Linked DNA regions of Homo sapiens. The protein of the gene in region 2 interacts with the protein of the main gene of each other region in a biochemical or structural test. Each region holds a gene or a part of one and is shown on either strand. Other genes may lie near its edges.

Region 1 (7,027 bases), on a different chromosome or scaffold from region 2:
GACATCCTGTCATCCTTGATAATACGCTTTAAAATTACCCCACCAGTACTGGGTTTTCTTTTGGGATGATGAAATATTTTGGAACTAGGGAGAGGTTGTGGTTGTACAACATTGTGAATGTTCTAAATGCCGCTGAATTGTTCACTTTAAGATGGTTAATGTTATGTTATGTGAATTTCACCTCATTAAAAAAATTACCACACCAGTGTTGGTTCAGTGTTGAAGCCGGTTTGTCTCTGCTGTCATGGGTATTATCATGAAGCATTTTTGCTAAACTCCACTTTGTTAATGCTTCTCTAGTAAGAGCAAAGCATCTCAAGGTTCTTTATTGCTGTCCATTTTCCATTTTACAGGGGTTTGCTTAAGTGGCCAGGATATATGTGTTTATAAAGCATTTTGAAGTCATGGACTAACCCCAAATCATATATCTTGTATCAGTATTAATATTTGCACCTTCTGTCTTTTGTCAGCTGGCAGATTTGGGTGAGGGTAGTTAATTAATTTGGTCATCACAACTGATTTAATTTCTGGGAGAAGCTTGTATTTTAAGGCAAATTCAAATCTGTAATAATATAGCCTCCTTGGAAATTTTCACTTTTTCCTTTTGTGGGATGAACCATCTTCAAACACAAATCAGACACAAGAGAAAACTAGAAGACAGAAAATAAAGAATTGTTTAGCAACTTTTTTCCATAAGCACATATTTCATATCATTTCAACAAATTTGAGGAAGCACGAATAAACCTAAGTGACTTTAGCAAGATCAGTTGTACCTGTATATACTGGCAGCAAGAAACTAGAAAATTAAAATTTATGATACCATTTATGATAGCATCCAAAAAATTGAATACCCAGCTGTAAATATAATAATTTGGGTGTTATTGATACAGACCATGACACCTTTGTTGTGACTGCCACCTGGCCTGACAGAGATTGTGAGACATCCTGATTTCAGAGATGTTAACAATGATTTTTTTAAAGTGTCTTTGACTTGAAGCAATATGGTAATAATTTTCTGTGAAAAATTATGTAAAATGTCAGTCCTCTATGAAATCTATAGAAGTTCAGCCTGTGACCAGGTCTGGAAGTTTTGCTTACCACTCTACAGCGTGATTTTAATGTTATTTTTTGTTCAAAATCTGCTCTTAAAAAGAAGTTGAGCAGTGCCTACCTTTGCATTGGAAGGTACTGTTAACTATAGCTTTACTGAACAAATTAACTTCATAGACTGGCTATGGAGGCAAGTAAAGCCACAAAGGGTGGATGGTGGTGTGTGGGGTGCAGGGTTGGGTCTGAGCATTGAGCCACCGGCACAGAAGGGTTTGTTTCCCTGGTGTGAGTGATATGGGGCAGGGTCTGTGGGGGTCAGTGCAGCAAAAAAACAAAACCAACAAAAAACCCACAGAAATGTTTGCCTATCTAGGTGACTTGTGACTATTCCAAGATTTGTCTGTCCCTCCATCCTCCCACCTCTCTGATCCTTTCATGAACAAGGGAAAGTTGACATTTTAAAGAATCACATTGATGAGGTTAAATTGGGAGAATCGCTTGAACCCGGCAGGCAAAGGTCGCAGTGAGCTGAGATTGTGCCACTGCACTCCAGCCTGGGCGACAGAGCAAGACTCTGTCTCAAAAAATGATAATAATAATAATGAGGTTAAATTGCTTGAAAACCAGCCAATATAATGTTATGTGCATTTCATCAAATTTGGTTATTTTTTAAAAAGCATTTATTTGAGGCTGCTCAGTATTTGGGATAGCCTTTTATGTGTCAGAAATGCCACAGCAGAACAGGTGTGTGTGTATGTGTGTGTGTGTGTGTGTGTGTGTGTGTGTGTGTGTGTGTTTAGGCAGGAGGAGGTTTATGTCTGTGAGCTTTTATGTCCAAGTCCTGAAGTCCAAGCTGTCAGAACAATGACAGCTAAAATTCATTTAGCACTTATTATATGTCAAGTATTTTCCAAACTTCAGGATTTCTCACAAAGGTAGATTTCAATATAGTTCTAAATGGTTATCCTTGTAGTACATATAAGTTTCACCTTTAAAAGAGAGCTAGTTGAACTGTATACTGAAAAATGCTTGATGGTAAGTTTTATGTTACATGTTTTTATCACAGTTTTTAAGAGAACCATAAGCTCAGGAATTTACTATAAAGCCAAAGTAAATTCTAAATTAAAAAATGATGAACAATAGCAATATGCAGTTCTTTTTTTTTTTTTTTTTTTTGAGATGGAGTCACTCTGTCGCACAGGCTGGAGTGCAGTGATGCAGTCTCGGCTCACTGCAACCTCTGCCTCCAGGGTTCAAGTGATTCTCATGCCTCTGCCTCCCAAGTAGCTGGGATTACAGGCACGTGCCAGCACACCTGGCTAATTTGTTGTATTTTTTAGTAGAGACGGTTTCACCATGTCAGCCAGGCTGGTCTTGAACTCCTGACCTCAGGTGATCCACCCGTCTTGACCTCCCAAAGTGCTGGGATTACTGGCGTGAGCCACTGTGCCCGGTCTTTTTTTTTTTTTTTTTTTTTTTTCAGTATGCAGTTTTTGAAGGAAAACCTTATGATTCTTTTTAGCATTTTAAATTCTTTGCTCCTTTTAAAAGCAGATTTTTCACCATTTATCAAATCTAGTTCTTAGCTGAAGAATTATGCTTCCATTGATAGATCCTTTAGAAACAAACACATAATGAATGGCTAAAGCCTTATAAAATTAGCTGCAGATGGCACATATCTTGAGCCTAACTTAACTGGGTTATCCCACAGACTAATTCAAATGAATCATCTTTTATTCTATAATAAAACCTCATGTTTCCTAGCACTATAAGTATGGATTTTTTGTTGGTTTGTTTGCCATTGTTAACCACATTTTCTGTTTTTAATCAGATTTCTTTTTTAATACTAAGAAGTTATCTAACATACAAATCTGAGTTTCACTGAATAAATTTTGCTTCGAATTTATTTTTATATGATGCTGAAACTTTTCATCTTAAATTATAATGTGTCAATACTTTCAGTCTGTTGGGCATGGGAAGTTGTATAGCTAACCCTCAGCTACCCATGTAACACCCTTGTTACCTGTCTGGGCCCCAGGTTCCTTGTGGAGAAGCACTGGTATAAGCAGTGGGAGGCATACGTGCAGGGAGGGGACCAGGACTCCAGCACCTTCCCTGGCTGCATCAACAATGCCACACTCTTTCAAGGTACAAGGCCTTTGCCTCCTTCTCACCCTAGCCCTGGAGTTCTTGTCCCTTCCGTCCCTACAGATGATCATAAGCCCATTCTGTGTGCTAGGTCACTGGTGGGGTGGCCAGAGTCATTCGTCAGTTTCCTTTGTTGATTCTTCCTCTGCCACCTCCACCCCCGCCCCACAGATGAGATAAACTGGCGCCTCAAGGAGGGACTGGTGGAAGGCGAGGATTATGTGCTGCTCCCAGCAGCTGCTTGGCATTACCTGGTCAGCTGGTATGGTCTAGAGCATGGCCAGCCACCCATTGAACGCAAGGTATAATGGATGGGGAGGGTGCATGGCGGGGAGTGCGTAGTAAGAAAGCCTTGTAGGCCCAGCATGGGTACAGATCCATGTATGCTGGGTAGGTACACATATGTCTGCTCTCTTCCCCCTCCTAGCTCATCATACAGGTATCTTTGTCTGCTGTGTGTGTTCCCCTGTGTGGCTCTCTTTACAGACCATTGTATATGTGTGTTTGTATGCTATGTTTGTAAGGCAGAGTGTGTGCTCCTCTCATTTGAGAGGTCACAGCGCTGTGTCTGTGTGAGTACACCTGTGTCTGCACCCCTCTACTCTTACAGGTCATAGAGCTGCCCAACATCCAGAAGGTCGAAGTGTACCCAGTAGAACTGCTGCTTGTCCGGCACAATGATTTGGGCAAATCTCACACTGTTCAGTTCAGCCATACCGATTCTATTGGTGAGTCTAAGGGTCACGCAATGGGTTGGTGTTCCTAGCTACTAGTCCCAACTCAGTGACTTGAGGTTGCATAGGGTTAAGCTGAAGCTGACTGAGAAGGCACTGGTCAGACTTTGGAAGACCCAGAAGGCATTGGCTAAGTTGGGTGGAGGCACTGAGGGGATCTACTAGAGCCCTGAGGGTATGTGAGCTACATTCTAGTGGCTTACGTGGTGTGGCAGAGGATATTTGCTGGAGATCTCCAGTCTGGAGTGTGGGCCAGTCATTTGGAGACTGATTGAGGACACAGGTATTGGCCAAGCATGTGAGGTCCGTAGGGATGAGTCAGGTATGCCCAGATGGATTGATCATTTTGGGTCTCACAAAGATCTTGAATGTACTCCATCACCCCGCACAGGCCTAGTATTGCGCACAGCTCGGGAGCGGTTTCTGGTGGAGCCCCAGGAAGACACTCGGCTTTGGGCCAAGAACTCAGAAGGCTCTTTGGATAGGTTGTATGACACACACATCACGGTTCTCGATGCGGCCCTTGAGACTGGGCAGGTAAGGGTGGGGAGGGCTTTTCTGTTCAGGTGGACTGGCAGATAGACTCACCTGGCAGTACTCGGGGGAAATGAAGGCTAGGTACCCATAATGTCCTCCATTAATACCTTTCCTTCTTTCTCTTTCTCCAACCCAGTTGATCATCATGGAGACCCGCAAGAAAGATGGCACTTGGCCCAGCGCACAGCTGCATGTCATGTGAGCCCTTGGGGTATCTGGTCCAGAGCGGGGGCGTCCCACAGTAGGCAAAATGATTTAGCCCATGAGCACATTGCACCCCCATGCAGCAGGCCCTCAGCTGACAGTTTCTCATCTAACCCCAGGAACAACAACATGTCGGAAGAGGATGAGGACTTCAAGGGTCAGCCAGGCATCTGTGGCCTCACCAATCTGGGCAACACGTGCTTCATGAACTCGGCCCTGCAGGTTGGGCCATTATAGTTGTGTCTGGCACAGCCACGTGGTTGGGCTTCAAGAGCTGAGGATTGGGGACAGAGCTGGGGTCCTGAGGGGACTACAGGGCAAGGGGTCAGGATGAAAGCTGAGGCCCCACAAGTCTGAAGTGGCACGCCCACGTTCATTCCTGAACTATCAGCCTCTTCTCTCAGCTTGCCCTCATTTTCCCTCTTCTCTTCCCTGTTCCCACGTTCTTCCTTCTCGTGAAATCCTAATGCCTTCTCTCCCCTACTCTCCTGCTCCTCTCTCTCCTCCCTTCCCCTTCTCTCTTGTTTTCCTCTCTCTTTCCTCCTGGCTTCTTTTTGTGTATCCTCACTTTGAACCTTCTGTCTCCCCTCTGCCTCATTCACCTGGTCTCTGGCCTCTGCAGTGCCTCAGCAATGTGCCACAGCTCACCGAGTACTTCCTCAACAACTGCTACCTGGAGGAGCTCAACTTCCGCAACCCACTGGGCATGAAGGGTGAGATCGCAGAGGCCTATGCAGACCTGGTGAAGCAGGCGTGGTCTGGCCACCACCGCTCCATTGTGCCACATGTGTTCAAGGTGTGACTCAACCCTGGGCACCCCCGACCCCCTACGTCTCTTGGCTCTCCTAACTCCCTCTCTCTCTGATGACCCTGCCCATCTTCTTAGAACAAGGTTGGCCATTTTGCATCCCAATTTCTGGGCTACCAGCAGCATGACTCTCAGGAGCTGCTGTCATTCCTCCTGGACGGGCTGCATGAGGACCTTAATCGGGTGAAGAAGAAGGAGTATGTGGAGCTGTGCGATGCTGCTGGGCGACCGGATCAGGTAGGCTGCCCCCGCATTTGCAGTCCAATTAACATCACCAAGGCCTCTGCCTCGGGGATTTTCTGGCCTCCCTGGGGTATCTAACACGCCACCATTTTCTGTTAAGTTTCTCTACCTGACCTCAACTCCAGCCTTACTCTTAACCTTAGTTGCAATACCATATCTGCCCCCACAGTCAACCCAGAGTAAACCCCAGCGCAGTCTCCTGCCCTAAATGACCCCCAGTCTTGACCGTGAACATAGTCTCTGTGTATCCCTAGCTGGAGCTCTGCCTCTGGACTTTAGCAGTGGCCTTCCGCTTCACCCCATTTGAATGCACCCCAAGCCATGGTTTCCTCTTACCCTGGGCAAGCCCCACCACCCACCATGACACTATCAACAGGAGGTGGCACAGGAGGCATGGCAAAACCACAAACGGCGGAACGATTCTGTGATCGTGGACACTTTCCACGGCCTCTTCAAGTCCACGCTGGTGTGCCCCGATTGTGGCAATGTATCTGTGACCTTCGACCCCTTCTGCTACCTCAGTGTTCCACTGCCTATCAGCCACAAGAGGGTCTTGGAGGTCTTCTTTATCCCCATGGATCCGCGCCGCAAGCCAGAGCAGGTGTGGGGCAGTGGGGGCCTGGGGAGATGATGATGGACACATAGAGTTTGATTAGCTGCCATAGCTCAAGGCTTCTTGCATTAACTCACCACAAGCCCTTTTGGTCTTTTGTGGATACCGTTTTTCCCTTAGCACCGGCTCGTGGTCCCCAAGAAAGGCAAGATCTCGGATCTATGTGTGGCTCTGTCCAAACACACGGGCATCTCGCCAGAGAGGGTGAGACTGCAGAAGGAGGCTGGATGGGATTCCAGGGCAAGGAGGCAGAAGGGCCTGGGAGGCCGTGCAGACTAACAGTCCCCTCTCCATATCCCATTCCTAGATGATGGTGGCTGATGTCTTCAGTCACCGCTTCTATAAGCTCTATCAGCTAGAGGAGCCTCTGAGCAGCATCTTGGACCGTGATGATATCTTCGTGTGAGTGGGGATGGCAGGGAGGTGGTGGTTCCTCAGGAACTTGGTCCACTTCCTTTTGTATGGTCCTGCCTTAACCACCTTCTCTCTTCCCTGCCTCTGCCTCGTTCACTGGGCACCTGCCCTGCGCAGAGCTTCAGCCACATGCCTTGGGAGGCTGAGGCAGGAGAATCACTTGAACCCGAGAGGTTCAAGTGAGCCAAGATCACGCCACTGCACTCCAGTCTGGGCGACAGGGCAAAACTCCATCTCAAAAATAAATAAAGCCGGGCGCGGTGGCTCACGCCTGTA
Region 2 (7,027 bases):
ACCTGTAACGCATTTCGGTCTCTCATGGCTATTTCAAATGACGTGATTACCACAGGATGAATCTGCAAAGTCCCTTTCCGTTTGTAAATATTTCTTACCAATTTTTGACGTTCCTCCTGGGTTCCATGATATAACATTGTAGGGATCTGAAAAATTTTATATTGATTTTTATCAGACTTAAGAACAAAATGTAAATATTGACTATTTAGAAAATATAAATCATTCTGAGGGAAAAAATATAATTTTAAAAAATTTTATTTCTATTTTTCTATAGCAAAATAAGCCAAGCAATTCTAACAAATCATTGAACTATTATGGGAGAAAATGAAAAAAAAACAAACAAAAAAACAAAGTCAGGCCCAGCACAATGGCTCACACCTATAATCTCAACACTTTGGGAAGCCAAGGCAAGCCGATCTCTAAAGTCCAGTAGTTCGAGATCAACCTGAGCAACATGGAGAAATCCCATCTCTACAAAAAATACAAAAATTAGCTGGTGTGGTGGTACGCACCCGTAGTGCCAGCTACTCACCCAGTGGAGTGAGATGGGAGGTTCACATGAGCTACTCAGGCGTGTGAGATAGCAGGCTCACATGAGCCTGGGAGGTGAAGGCCACAGTGAGCCAGAATGACGCCACTGCACTCCAGCCTGAGCAACAGAGCAACATCCTGTCTGAAGACAAAAAAAAAGGCATAAAAACAAATAGACGGGCCAGGTGGGATGGCTCATACCTGTAATCCCCAGCACTTTGGGAAGCTGAGGCGGGCAGACCACCTGAGGTCGGGAGTTCCAGACCAGCCTGACCAACATGGAGAAACCCCGTCACTACTAAAAATACAAAATTAGCCAGGCGTGGTGGCGCACGCCCGTAATCCCAGCTACCTGGGAGGCTGAGACAGGAGAATCGCTTGAACCCGGGAGGCGGAGGTTGCACTGAGCCGAGATCGTGCCATTGCACTCCAGCCTGGGCAACAACAGTGAAACTCTGTCATACACACACACACACACACACACACACACACACACACACACACAAACACAACCCCCCCCCCAACAAAAAACCTACAAATACATAAAACACATATAGGCTGGGCGCAGTGGCTCACACCTGTAATCCCACCACTGTGGGAGGCCAAGGTGGGCGGATCACAAGGTCAGGAGATAGAGGCCATCTTGGCCAACATGGTGAAATCCTGTCTCTACCAAAATACAAAAAATTAGCCTGGCCTTGTGGTGTGCGCCTGTAGTCCCAGCTACTACACTCCAGCATGGTGACAGAGACAGACTCCATTTCAAAATAAATAAATAAATAATATATATATAAATATATAAAATGAGACAGATGGTGATACTACGTCTAGAATATATATATTTCTCATAAGGCAAAAATGTGCAGAAGGGCTGGGCCCGGGAGGTACAGTGGCTCACGTCTATAATCCCAGTACTTTGAGAGGCCAAAGTGGGCAGATCTCTTCAGGCCAGGAGTTCAAGACCAGCCTGGCCAACATGGCAAGACATCGTCTCTACTAAAAACATAAAATTAGCTGGGCATGGTGGCACATGCTTGTAATCCCAGCTACTCCGGTGGCTCAGGCACAAGAATTGCTTCATCATGGGAGGCAGAGATTGCAGTGAACCAAGACTGCATCACTGCCCTCCAGCCTGGGTAACAGAGACTCCATTTCAAAAAAAAAAAAAAAAAAAAAAATTGCAGAAGGTAACAAGTACAGAAAAAACAGAAAACTCTCTTCTTAGCCTTTTGGCAAAGATCAAGTGAAGAACAAGCAGAATTTTTAATAAAATCTCTACCTAAGTCTGTCTCAGTCGAATCAAATTACCAATGCACTGAAAATCATTCAGGAATATTTTAGGAAAGATGTCAGGGATTTCCAAAACCTATACTATATAAATTTAAATTAGGGTATTGTGCAGATTGAGTAAGTCAAATCAGACAAAATATTTATACAGAAACCAATATAATTATAAGAGTTCTACAATTTAATTCCTACTACAACAAAGCATAAGAAAACATGTAAAATTATAATTTTAACATAAGGAAGCATGTCTTACATCTGGTGTAAATCTTTTGAATTCAGCCATCCAGTTAGGAAGTGTAGACAAAGGGCCACAGACAAGAAAAGGTCCTGGTACTCCTCTCTGAATCATCAATGCAATAGTAGCAATGCACTGAACTGTCTTACCCAATCCCATTTCATCTGCTAAAATGCCATTAATTCCATTTTCCCAAAGCATCTGGACAAAATAATAGATACTGTATTTAAACTTGGATATAAACAACTACAGGATTACAATATTTTATTTCTTCTCTTTAAAAAATCACACCCAAAGATGAGAATTATGTTAAAGCTGATATATTCACACCATAAATTATAACAACACTGGAAAGTCCTTTATCAAAGCCATAAAAGTGCTGGAAGCCATTAACAAGGTAATTTCTACTTCTAAAAATTCAGGGTAAAGAAATCAGAAAGCAAGTATCCACATACAAATGTATAATAGTGAAACATGATAGAAATGACTCAAGTTGTGGTACCTCAAATCATTAGGCTACTATAGAAATAAAACCAGTATCTTGTATTAAAAATTCCAATTCATTACCCTAAGCCATTCCATGCCTTCTACTTGGTACCATCGCATCACTCCTCCAGTGAAGTGCTTTGGTTGTTGAAAAGGTACTGGCTGACCATTACACTTCCGGACTGGGTCAAAAAAGAATTTAGTATTCTGCCTAACCGTTTCAGACAATCTATCTTTAATTATACTATTCGAATCTTTATTTTTCTGAAGATCTTCCACACAGAGATTAGTAGAGGAGGAGTTTTCATCCTGTAGAGAAAAAAAGTTTAATAAGATGTGTTATACAAAATGCTGCTGTATGCCACCATTTATCAGAAAATGCAACTAACAAAATCTACTGAGTCCTATAATCATTAAGTATAGAAGACTAAGATCACACCTGGATTAAAAAACTGGAGACATCGCCATCCCTCTACAAATGAAAAGCTACTAAAAAAAAAAATAACAGGCTGCCACAGTGGCTAATCCTACAATCACAGCACTTTGGGAAGCTGAGGCAGGAGGATCACCTGAGTCCAGGTATCCAAGACAACCCTGGACAACATGGCGAAACCCTGTGTCTACTAAAAATACAAAAAATTAGCTGGGTGTGGTTGCACGCAACTGCCTGTATCCCAGCTACTCGGGAGGCTGAGGATCACTTAAACCCAGGAAGTCAAGGCTGCAGTGAGCCATGAACACAGCCACTGCACTCCAGCCTGGGTGACAGAAGACTCCATCTCAAAAAATAAAATAAAATAAAATAAAATAAAATATAAAAATCTGAGAATAACCCTTACAAATTAAAATCAGGCACATACTTTTGAAAAGATCATTAGAATTGTATCTCTCTTCCAAACTTCTAATATTGTGATACTCAATAATTTATTAAACTGTTACACAGAAAATACAGTACGCATAAATAAGACGGGCAAAAGATATTAACAGATACTTTACAAAAGAAAACATACAGGCCGGGCATGGTGGCTCACGCCTGTAATCCCAGCATTTTGGGAGGCCAAGGCAGGCAGATCATGAGGTCAAGTGATCAAAACCATCCTGGCCAAAATGGTGACACACTGTCTCTACTAAAAATACAAAAATTAGCTGAACATGGTGGCATGAGCCTGTTGTCCCAGCTACTTGGGAGGCTGAGGCAGGAGAATCGCTTGAACCTGGGAGGCAGAGTTTACAGTGAGCCGAGATCGTGCCATTGCACTCCAGCCTGGGCGACAGAGTGACACTCCATCTCAAAAAAGAAAAAAAAAGAAAGAAAACATAGTTATCAAAGAACATAAAAATATACTCTACTTCAGTAGTAATTAGGAAAATGCAAGTTAAAAACCACACAAGTTACCATTTCTCATCTAATAAAATGGCTGAAATTAAAAAGACTATCAAATGCTGACAATAATGTAAGCTGGAGTTTTCAAACATTGCTGGCGAGAGAATAAAATGATGTGTTTACTTTGGGGGGGAAAATCTGTACTTTCTTATGAACACACATTTGCCACGTAACACAACAATACCATTCCCAGGTACACAGGCAGAAAGTATGAAAACATGTCTACACATGGACTTGTGTGCAAATTATCATAGCAACCTTACTCATAAAAGTCACAAACTGCAAACAACCCAAATGCCCATCAATAAGGGGATGGATGAGAAAATTGTAACATTCATTCAACAGAATACTAGTCAATAAGAAGAAACCGGTTACTAATATGCTCAACAACATAAATGAGTATCACAGACATGTTGAGTGGAAAGGAAATAATAAGCCATCCTATAAAAGGTGTAAAAAGTGGCCTCCTCTGGGTTTGGGGGTGGAAAGACATAGAAGAGATCCCTTTACAATGGAAATGTTCTATACCTTGATTTGGATGGTGGTTACACAAGTGTATGCAAGTGTCGAAATTCATTAAAATACCATACTTAACAACTATTTCTTACTGACTGTAAGTTATAAAATGAAGCCAAAATCCCATAGTAAATTACAGAAGATTACATCTAGACTTTATCTTAAAAATCCAACTAAATGTTTATCTAACTAAATCTTTAAAAATCCAACTAAACTGCACCCATAAACCAGTCCTTAATAACTTAACAAAGAATAAAAACCAAGACACTTTTACAATATAAATTTTGGACAAAATTATATGACCAAATAGATTATCTCTCATTTTATAAACATAACATTAATTTCCCAAAGGCCTAAAAATCTTTAATATGTAAATTAACTACCTGAAGTTCATATCCATTCATGAATATTTTCATGTCATGATTATTTTGCTTCCCTAGGCAACCTTGTAATTTTAAGTACTTGAACAATAAAAAGTCAGATAACAAGGAACCTCTCTACATGAAATGGGCTAAGTGAAGAGGTGGCTCGGAAATCAAGCCTTCTCAAACAGAACTTTTAAGAAACTTAAAAAATCTTTAAGGTCTGAAGCAAGATTAAGGCATCCCTCACAGCTTCCATAAGATGATTCACGGTTTATATCCACATGGTTACGAGCACTTGTATCACTGCCAGATTCACAAGTTAAAAGCAACATTGCTAGACCCATAAATTAACATTTATACATCAAGAATCATGCAATAAAACAACTAACTAAAGTTGATACATAAAAAAGAAGAATGTTGGATATGGAAGAAGTGAATACATAGGTATTTTTTTTTAAAGCAAAGAAACAGGATAATAGTGAGAAGAACGTATACTGCTGATTAAAGAAAAAGGACTAGTAACTGAGGAGTAAATATGACTTCTAAACTTAATCTTACATTATAAATTTCTTACCTCATTCTCCTTTTTATTTTTTTTAGCCACAGACAAAATTTCCTAGTAGTTTGAGAAAACAAAAACAAATTAATAATGTATGAAGTTCATTTATTTATTTATTCAACAAGCATTTATTCTGTGCTCATTTTGCCAGGAAATGAGGATGAGATTCTCAAGATAAAACTAGTAGCCTTCAGGCAGAAATAAGCCTATAGACATTACTGGCTCATAATATTTCATAACATTCTAGGCTAATTTGGGAACACTTATACAATGGGATATTTCATCAAATACAGTGATTTTCCAGCTTTTCTTTCTTTTAATCTGAGTAGATTAAGTACAAATTCACACATGGCAACAAACCTCTAGTCCTGGGGTCAGCAAACTACAGCCTGTAGACCAACTCCAGCTAAGCGAATACACAGGTATTTTTTTAAAAGCAAAGAAATGGGATAAATTGGAACAAAGTCAGCCTCACTTGTTTACGGTTTGTCTATGGCTGCTTTCAAGCAACAACAGCAGAGTACAGGGTTGAGTAGTTGCCCACAAAACTACTCAAAAGCTAAAAATATTTACTATCTGGCTATTTACAGAAAAAGTTTGCCAAACCATGTTACAGCCCACTTTAGGCCTCTGTGGATAGACATCTGAGTTTGCATTCCTGGGTAAGAGGCAAAGACAGAAAAAATTAAAAATACAGAATAAAGTGCTCTGATTTTGAAGTACCTACTAGATGCTGCTGGTAGGGAGACAAACAATACCCGAGTATGTCACTGGATGACTTAGCAAATAATTATCTTACATAAAATTATCTAAAAAGTTGTCACCAGGCTTCATCATTCAAGATAGTGAGGGTAGATTTCAAGCAGAGAGAATATAGAAGGCATAGGGGATGAAGTAGATTCAAAACAGCAATATCAAATTTAAGATTCATAGAAGAGTAACAGGACATGTAAGTGGCTGACACACACACATATATATACATGGGAATATATGTATATCGTGTGTGTATGAAGTATTATGTATGTATAGATATTCATATTATAAGGCTGAGGCTAAAAGGATTTTATACCAGGAACTGATAAAAGCTGTCCTGTAAAATGACTAGATAAAATGAAACTTTTGAAAGAACAATTTGGAAATAAATCAAAATCTATAAATACCACCAATGAAGTATTCTTATTAAAAATCAAGCATGGGCAACATGGTGAGATCCCATCTCTACAAAAAATATAAATGTTGGCTGGGCTTGGTGGTACACGCCTGTAGTCCCAGCTACTCAGGAGGATGAGGTGGGAGGATTGCTTGAGCCCAGCAATCAGAGGTTCAATGAGCCGAGATGGCACCACTGCACTCCACCCTGGGCAACAGAGAAAGATCTTGTCTCCCAAAAAAAAATAAAAATAAAAAAAAAAATAAAAAAACACCTTAATCACAAACTTCCGTATTTAACTTATAGTTACTATAGTTAACAGGAAACACAAGAGGCAGAGAAATCATGGGGATACAATCAGTAAAGTCTAGAATGTGGGGAATTATACAGAATTACTCATTTTCTTCAACAAATAATGTTTCTTAAAAAAGATGAGAGACACTCTAGATCTAAAAGAGACCCAAGATACGCATTAATCAAACACAATTTATGTAACTTTTTCGGATCCTGATTT
Region 3 (7,027 bases), on a different chromosome or scaffold from region 2:
GTATAATAAAAGCTTTGTTGTTGGGGGGCAGGCAGTCAGGCATCAGAGAAATTATTTTGTCAAAGATAATAAGATGGACTGAAATGAAGGAAAAGGAAAGAGAAACAAGTTTAAAAGCTATTATAGTTGCCAAGATAAGAAGTAATGAGGGGCTGTCTTGGGTTGATGGCAAAAGGAATTAAAAAGGGATCAACATGAGAATCGTTGTAAAGGTAGATAATGTTTAGCTCAATAAGCAGTTACAAAGCTGAGTTAAGAAGGACAAGTTCTTAGTCTGGCGCCCAGAGAAAATCAAGTGACACAAATGAGAAGCTGGCAGGTGGGATGAGAAATTATTCTGAATAAATTTAAAATCCAAGCCGACATGTTAGGAAGGTACTGACGAACAAATTTAAGTTTGGAACTTAAATAAAGTAAGGCCAGAGATACAGACTTGTGAATTATCTGTACAGAGAAACTTCAAAATCAAACACCTTGTAAATCATATCTCACTAAAACAAACAATTAGTTACCTAAGAAGGCTCTGGGAGAGGATGTTCAAGGGAAGAATCTTGAGGAATACCTACCCTTAGAGAAGAGAAAGGAGAGCAGAGAGAAAAATTGAGAAGAACGAATAATCAAAATTAAACCTCTGGAAGTCAAGAATAAAAAGGTTTCAAGGTGAGGATAGGCTGGGCGCAGTGACTCATGCCTGTAATCCCAGCACTTTGGGAGGCTGAGGCTGGAGGATCGCTTGAGTCCAGGAATTTGAGACCAACCTGGGCAACATCAGGAGACCCTGTCTCTAGAAAAAATTTAAAAATTAGGCTGCGCACAGTGGCTGACGTCTAAGTGACGCTGGTAATCCCAGCACTTTGGGAGGCTGAGGCGGGTGGATCACCTGAGGTCAGGAGTTTGAGACAAGCCTGGCCAACATGGTGAAACCCTGTCTCTACTAAAAATACAAAAATTAGCCACACGCGGTGGCATACGCCTGTGATTCCAGCTACTCAGGAGGCTGAGGCAGGAGAATCACTTGAACCTGGGAGGCAAAGGTTGCAGTGAGCCGAGATCGCACCATTGCACTCCAGCCTGTGCGACAGGGTGAGACTCCATCTCAAAAAAAAAAAAAAAAAAAAAAAAAAAAAATAGCAGGGTGTGGTGGTGTACACCTGTAGTCCCAGCTACTTGGGAGGCTGAAGTGGGAGGATCACTGGAGTCCCAGAGGTCGAGATTGCAGTGAACTGTGATGGGGTCACTGCACTCCAGCCTGGGTGACAGAGCAAGTCCCTGTCTCAGAAAAACAAACAAAAAAACCAAGAAGGTAAGGAGGATAGTCCATGCTTCCAAAAAAATACAGAGAACAGTATACTGTCAAAAGGCTGTAAGAGTCAGAACAGCTTTTCCCCTGGAATTATCTCAGAGATTGAATGGAATGCTGATTTTCTCTCCAGTAAAGAATCATAAAACACTAGGATTCAGCTATCTCTTAAATCTATAAAAATTATTTCCTGGGATGGGTGCGTGGCTCATGCCTGTAATCCCAACACTTTGGGAGGCCGAGGCAGGCGGATCATGAGGTCAGGAGTTTGAGACCAGCCTGGCCAACATGGTGAAGCTCCGTCTCTACTAAAAATACAAAAATAAGCTAGGTATGGTGGTGCATGCCTGTAATCCCAGCTACTGGGGAGACTGAGGCAGAAGAATCGCATGAAACTGGAAGGCAGAGGTTGCAATGAGCCAAGATTGTGCCACTGCACTCCAACCTGGGCCAAAGAACGAAACTCTGTCTCAAAAAAAAAAAAAAATTGTTTTCTTAAAAACTCATTAGCTTACCAATATAGCATAACTATGTCTAAACAATAAAAAAAGTTTGTATTCCTACTGTCATTTGAATAATTTATATACATATGTTTATAAGAAATATTTAATTCTACCTTTCAGCTTCATCTCTTGGCTTTGAAAAGCCCTGGTTTTTTTTTTGGCCAGGTACCATGGCTCACGCCTGTAATCCCCACACTTTAGGAGGCCGGGCCGGGTGGATCACGAGGTCAAGAGATCAAGACCATCTTGGCCAACATGGTAAAACCCCATTTCTACTAAAAATACAAAAATTAGCTGGGCATGGTGGCATGCGCCTGTAGTCTTAGCTACTCGGAGGCTGAGGCAGGAGGACTGCTTGAACCCGAGAGGGGAAGGTTTCAGTGAGCCAAGTCATGCCACTGCACTACAGCCTGGCGACAAAGCAAGACTCCATCTAAAAAAAAAAGAAAAAAGAAAAGTCCTATTTTTAAAGACAGCATGTGTTATGAAAGAAAGAAAAGGGCTTTGGTGTCAAACAGACCTGGGTTTGAATTCTACCTCTACCACCTGCTTTTGAGTTTTTCTTTTGTAAAATGGGATAATATTACCACCCTGCAGGAATTTAGAGGATTAAAAATAATGTATGCTAAGAGCCTGTTTGTACATAGTAGCCATTTATATTATTTTTCTAGTTTCCCATCTCTATACCAGACTACATTTCCTAGAAAATCCTGGACCTCTTTACCACTCAGCAATGATTCTCCAAACATCGTATATAATATAGGACACAGTCCCAAGTCTATGAAATCTGCTTACCCTTTCTGGCGTTTTAAAGAATTCAGAGAGCTCCGTTAATATCTTCTTTCAAGTATTCATGTTCTACGAACTGCAGTAAGACAATCTACCCAGGAACCCACAATATAAGCCTCCCTAAGTTTTTCTCCCTCTTTTAATTTTTAAAATAGATTTTTTTACTATTATTATCGTAGAGACGGAGTCTCACTATCTTGCCGCGTGGTCTCAAACTCCTGAGCTCAAGTAATCCTCCTACCTTGGCCTCCCAAAGTGCTGGGATTATAGGTATGTACCACCACACCTGGCCTCTTCTCCCTCTTGAAGGTTCTGAGGATACCCAAGATGGAAGACTGCAAAGCAATCACCATGGATAATGATGAGGATTCAAACTATGAATAAGGAACTTTGTTCCTTCTTTGAATTAATGCCTTCTCTCCCTATTGGTAACATAAAATGCCCAGTGTTTATAGTTTACTGGCTTTAATTATTGTTTTTTTATTTTTATTTTTTTGAGACAGGGTCTCACTCTGTCACCCAGGCTGGAGTACACTGGTGTGATATTGGGTCACTGCAACCTCTGCCTTCTGGGTTCAAGCAATTCTCCCGCCTCAGCCTCCCAAGTAGCTGGGACTACAGGTGCATGCCACTGCAGCTGGCTAATTTTTATATTTTTAGTAGACACAGGGTTTTGCTATGTTGGCTAGGCTGGTCTCAAACTCCTGACCTCAGGTGATCCGCCCGTCTCAGCCTCCCAAAATGCTGGGATTACAGATGTAAGCCACCGTGCATGGCCTCTGGCTTTAATTCTAATAACAGTATTTCAGACTATGTCAGGAATGCACTCTAACCCTTAAGTGTTAATTTCCAGCAGCAGAACTAAGCAAACTTTTTTTTTTTTTTTTTTTTTTTTTTTTAAGAGACAAGGTCTTGCTATGTTGCCAGCCTGAAACTCCTGGGCTCAAGCAGTCCTCCCAACTCAGCCCCCCGAGTAGTTGGGATTACAGGTACATGCCACTGCACCTGGCTAAGAGAACTTTCTATAAAAACATCCAGGACCATTTATCTCAGTTTAACTAATTCCTAGGGAAATCTACTTTTCATTTTGTTTCCATCTCAATTTACATTTACATCAGAAGTCTGTTGCCATTAACAGTTTTTGCCATTTATATTTCAAATTTTTCTTAAACTGGAGAGGATTTAAGATGAAAAAATGATGCTCCCAAGGTACAACTTACAATAAAACATTAAAGAGAGGCTTAAAACCTCAAGAAGTGCCTTCCTACAGGTTAGGTTAGAAGAAAGGGTCTAATGTTGGATTCTAAGTAAGGTTAACAAAACATACCTGGTAATGTGGCAATCATTAAAGTACACCAGAGGAATACAGTAACTTGACTACCATTAGAGGTAAACCCTATAGTAGCTTTCCAGATGGCTAAGAAAAAGCCAGGAAGAAAAAAAAAAATGGCACGTGAGGCAAATATGTATGCTTCACTTTAGAACTTGGCCAGACTTCCTTAAACAGTAACTTCAGAGGATAAACAGCAAATATCTAATCTAAAATGTTTGCATTGACCCAATCCACTAGACATACTATTAATACATTTCATTAATAAGATGACATCTTTGTCATATTAATTACTCCCCAATGCCCTATTGGCAACCTCAAGGCAGCCTCCGTTCATTAATTTATCTGTATCATAACACATTCCTGGGGTTAGATGGTACTTGAGAAATCTGGCTTCTGGCCCAGGAACTATGTCCTACAGAGGTAGAGATAAAAAAAAACTGCTGCAAAGAAGTGACTAATTCATAAAATTCATCACTCGCTAATTTTTGAAAAGCTTTCAAAGACTTTCTACTCACTCCAAGAGCAGAATGACTAAATCAATAAAGAGCAAGTAGCCTCCTTTTCTGACTGATTTTAACAGCAATGATGTTTCTTGGCTACATTTGTAAAAATAAAAGATGAAGTTTTTAATATTACTATAAAGCTAATCTAAAACTCACTGGCTTTTGGCTCTAAAATGAAAATATACAAAGTCACTACCCCATGCCTATTGCTGATTCAATTAATTCAGTTGCCTGTGTTCCAAATAGGTGAGGGTAAACAGCAGATTATCTTAGCTCACTGATAATCTGCTTTAAAAAAAAAAAAAGCTAATTCAATCTCAGAGACTTAAAAACTAACTCTAACACCAATGTTATGCAATAAAAAGTCTGGTTTGGATACCGTTATTTCTCTTTTATAATCTGGATATTTCCTAGACATGTTTAGAATAAACTTTTATACAGTAGAAATAATGGAGTAATGAATCTATCTACTGAAAGCATTTTAATAGTCACTTTATGATTTTAAAAGCCTATTACTCCCCTGATAGAATACAAGACTTAGAGCACGAAACTCAAGATCCCAGTCTTTCACAACAGGGTGCGCTTCTATACAATGTCTCCTACTAGAATCTGTTTGCTTTTAAAATGCCAGTATTGTTTTAAACTGGCAACAAAGAGGCTGCTTTCTTTCAGCTCTCTGTAGACAAGCTTCTGTCTTAGGTTGGTCCTACTCCACACTAAGGACCATGGCACTGGAACTGATTCTTTTTTTTGAGACTAGGTCTCGCTCTGTTGCCCATACTAAACTGCAGAGGCGCAATCTCAGCGCACTGCAGTGATCACTGCGCAATCTCAGCTCTACCTCCTGGACTCAAACAATCCTCCCACCTCAGCCTCCCAAGGAGATGGGACTGCAAGTACTTGCCCCATGCTTGGCTTTTTTTTTAAACTTTTTGTAGAGACAAGGTCTCAATATTGCCTAGGCTGGACTTGAACAACTAGGATCAAGTGATCCTCCCACCTTGGCCTCCCAAAAGTGCTGGGATTACAGCCATGAGCCAGCCGCACTCAGCCTGGCAGATTCTTATACATTTAATTGACTGCATTTAGCAGGGTGCAGTGGCTCACGCCTGTAATCCCAGCACTCTGGGAGGCTGAGGCAGGAGGATTGCTTGAGCCCAGGGGTTTGAAACCAGCCTGGGCAATATGGTGAAACCTCATCTTTACAAAAAATACAAAAATTAGCCAGGTACGGTGGCGTGCACCTGTAGTCCCAGCTACTCGAGAGGCTGAGATGGGAGAATCACCTAAGCCCAAGAGGTCGAGGTTGCAGTGAGCCATGATAGTGCCACTGCACTCTAGGTGACAGAGTGAGATCCTATTTCAAAAATAAATAAATAGACTGCACTTTAAGAGGTTGGTGGTGGGAACTAAAAGGTCACAAGCATTCTTAGCCTCCCACTCTAATCATCCTAGGAAATACTACCTAATAAGATGTCACAATTCTTAAGTAAACACCTAAAACCCTGGAAATATAAAAATATCTTCAAGCTGGGTGCTGCGGCTATGCCTGTAATCCCAGCACTTTGGGAGGCCAAGATGGGAGCATCACTTGAGCCGGGCAAGTAAGACCTCATCTCTTTAAAAAAACAAACAAACAAAAAAAAAACAACCAAAAATTAGCTAGGTATGGTGATATGCCCCTGCGGTCCCAGCTACTCAGCTGAGGTGGGAAGATCACTTGAGCCCAGGAGTTTGAGACCAGCCTAGGCAACAAAGTGAGACCCTATCTCTACAAAAATAAAAAAAACTTTAGAAAGATAAAAAGTTTACAGTGTGGTCCACAGACTAGAAATACTGATTTACTACATATAGATGTCACCTGGACATTCTTACCCAGCACATAAGGAAATAAACAGTCCAAGTTATCCCTCTTTCAAAGTATTTCCTTTTCTCCTCCCATCCTTTCCTTCACCCGACATGGATCTTCAGAGTTCATAAAAACACAAATGATACAAATGCAATCTCAACCCACCTCACCACCACCCTGGAGAATCCTTACCTTACAATGGAGAATTTAGACCCTGGATGATGGTAATGAAAAGTTCATCAAACCTAAAATGGTCACTGGTCTGAATGACACAGCTGCTTTCATTGTGATATTATCAGTACTTAATTTTCATGTGCCCTTGCCAAAAAGATACGAAAGAAAAGCCAACAAAAGGTTTAAAACTCTTCATCTGTGCTGTCATATTATTAAGACGGTCCAGCTGTGGAGCTGAAAAAAGAACTCTTTGGCCGGGCATGGTGGTTCACACCTGTAATCCTAGCACTTTGGGAGGCTGAGGCGGGCAGATCACAAGGTCAGGAGATTGAGACCACCCTGGCCAACATGGTGAAACCCCTCCTCTACTAAAAATACAAAAATTAGCTGGGCATGGTGGCGCATGCCTGTAATCCCAGCTACTCGGGAGGTTGAGGCAGGAGAATCGCTTGAACCAGGGAGTCGGAGGTTGCAGTGGGCTGAGATCGCGCCACAGCACCCCAGCCTGGTGACAGAGCAAGACTCGTCAAAAAACAAACAAACAAACAAAAAAAACCTCTTCATTCCTAACTCCCC

The links. Proteins that work in one complex are often made in the same cells at the same time.
Region 1: the proteins of HELLS (region 2) and USP11 form a complex in vitro, tested with the Homo sapiens proteins (one study listed by BioGRID).
Region 3: the proteins of HELLS (region 2) and DCAF8 form a complex in vitro, tested with the Homo sapiens proteins (one study listed by BioGRID).

What each region holds. Positions count from the first base shown.
Region 1 is NC_000023.11:47,235,982-47,243,008, forward strand, and holds part of USP11 (ubiquitin carboxyl-terminal hydrolase 11), read left to right. Parts: intron 1-3,088; coding exon 3,089-3,198; intron 3,199-3,369; coding exon 3,370-3,500; intron 3,501-3,808; coding exon 3,809-3,926; intron 3,927-4,323; coding exon 4,324-4,469; intron 4,470-4,605; coding exon 4,606-4,667; intron 4,668-4,792; coding exon 4,793-4,895; intron 4,896-5,295; coding exon 5,296-5,469; intron 5,470-5,559; coding exon 5,560-5,718; intron 5,719-6,100; coding exon 6,101-6,325; intron 6,326-6,457; coding exon 6,458-6,541; intron 6,542-6,644; coding exon 6,645-6,739; intron 6,740-7,027.
Region 2 is NC_000010.11:94,569,781-94,576,807, reverse strand, and holds part of HELLS (lymphoid-specific helicase), read right to left. Parts: exon of another isoform or gene 5,421-7,027; coding exon 5,379-5,420; exon of another isoform or gene 2,849-5,378; coding exon 2,621-2,848; intron 2,255-2,620; coding exon 2,072-2,254; intron 147-2,071; coding exon 3-146; intron 1-2. UniProt on the Homo sapiens protein: Plays an essential role in normal development and survival. Involved in regulation of the expansion or survival of lymphoid cells. Required for de novo or maintenance DNA methylation. May control silencing of the imprinted CDKN1C gene through DNA methylation.
Region 3 is NC_000001.11:160,252,550-160,259,576, forward strand, and holds part of DCAF8 (DDB1- and CUL4-associated factor 8), read right to left. Parts: intron 1-7,027. UniProt on the Homo sapiens protein: May function as a substrate receptor for CUL4-DDB1 E3 ubiquitin-protein ligase complex.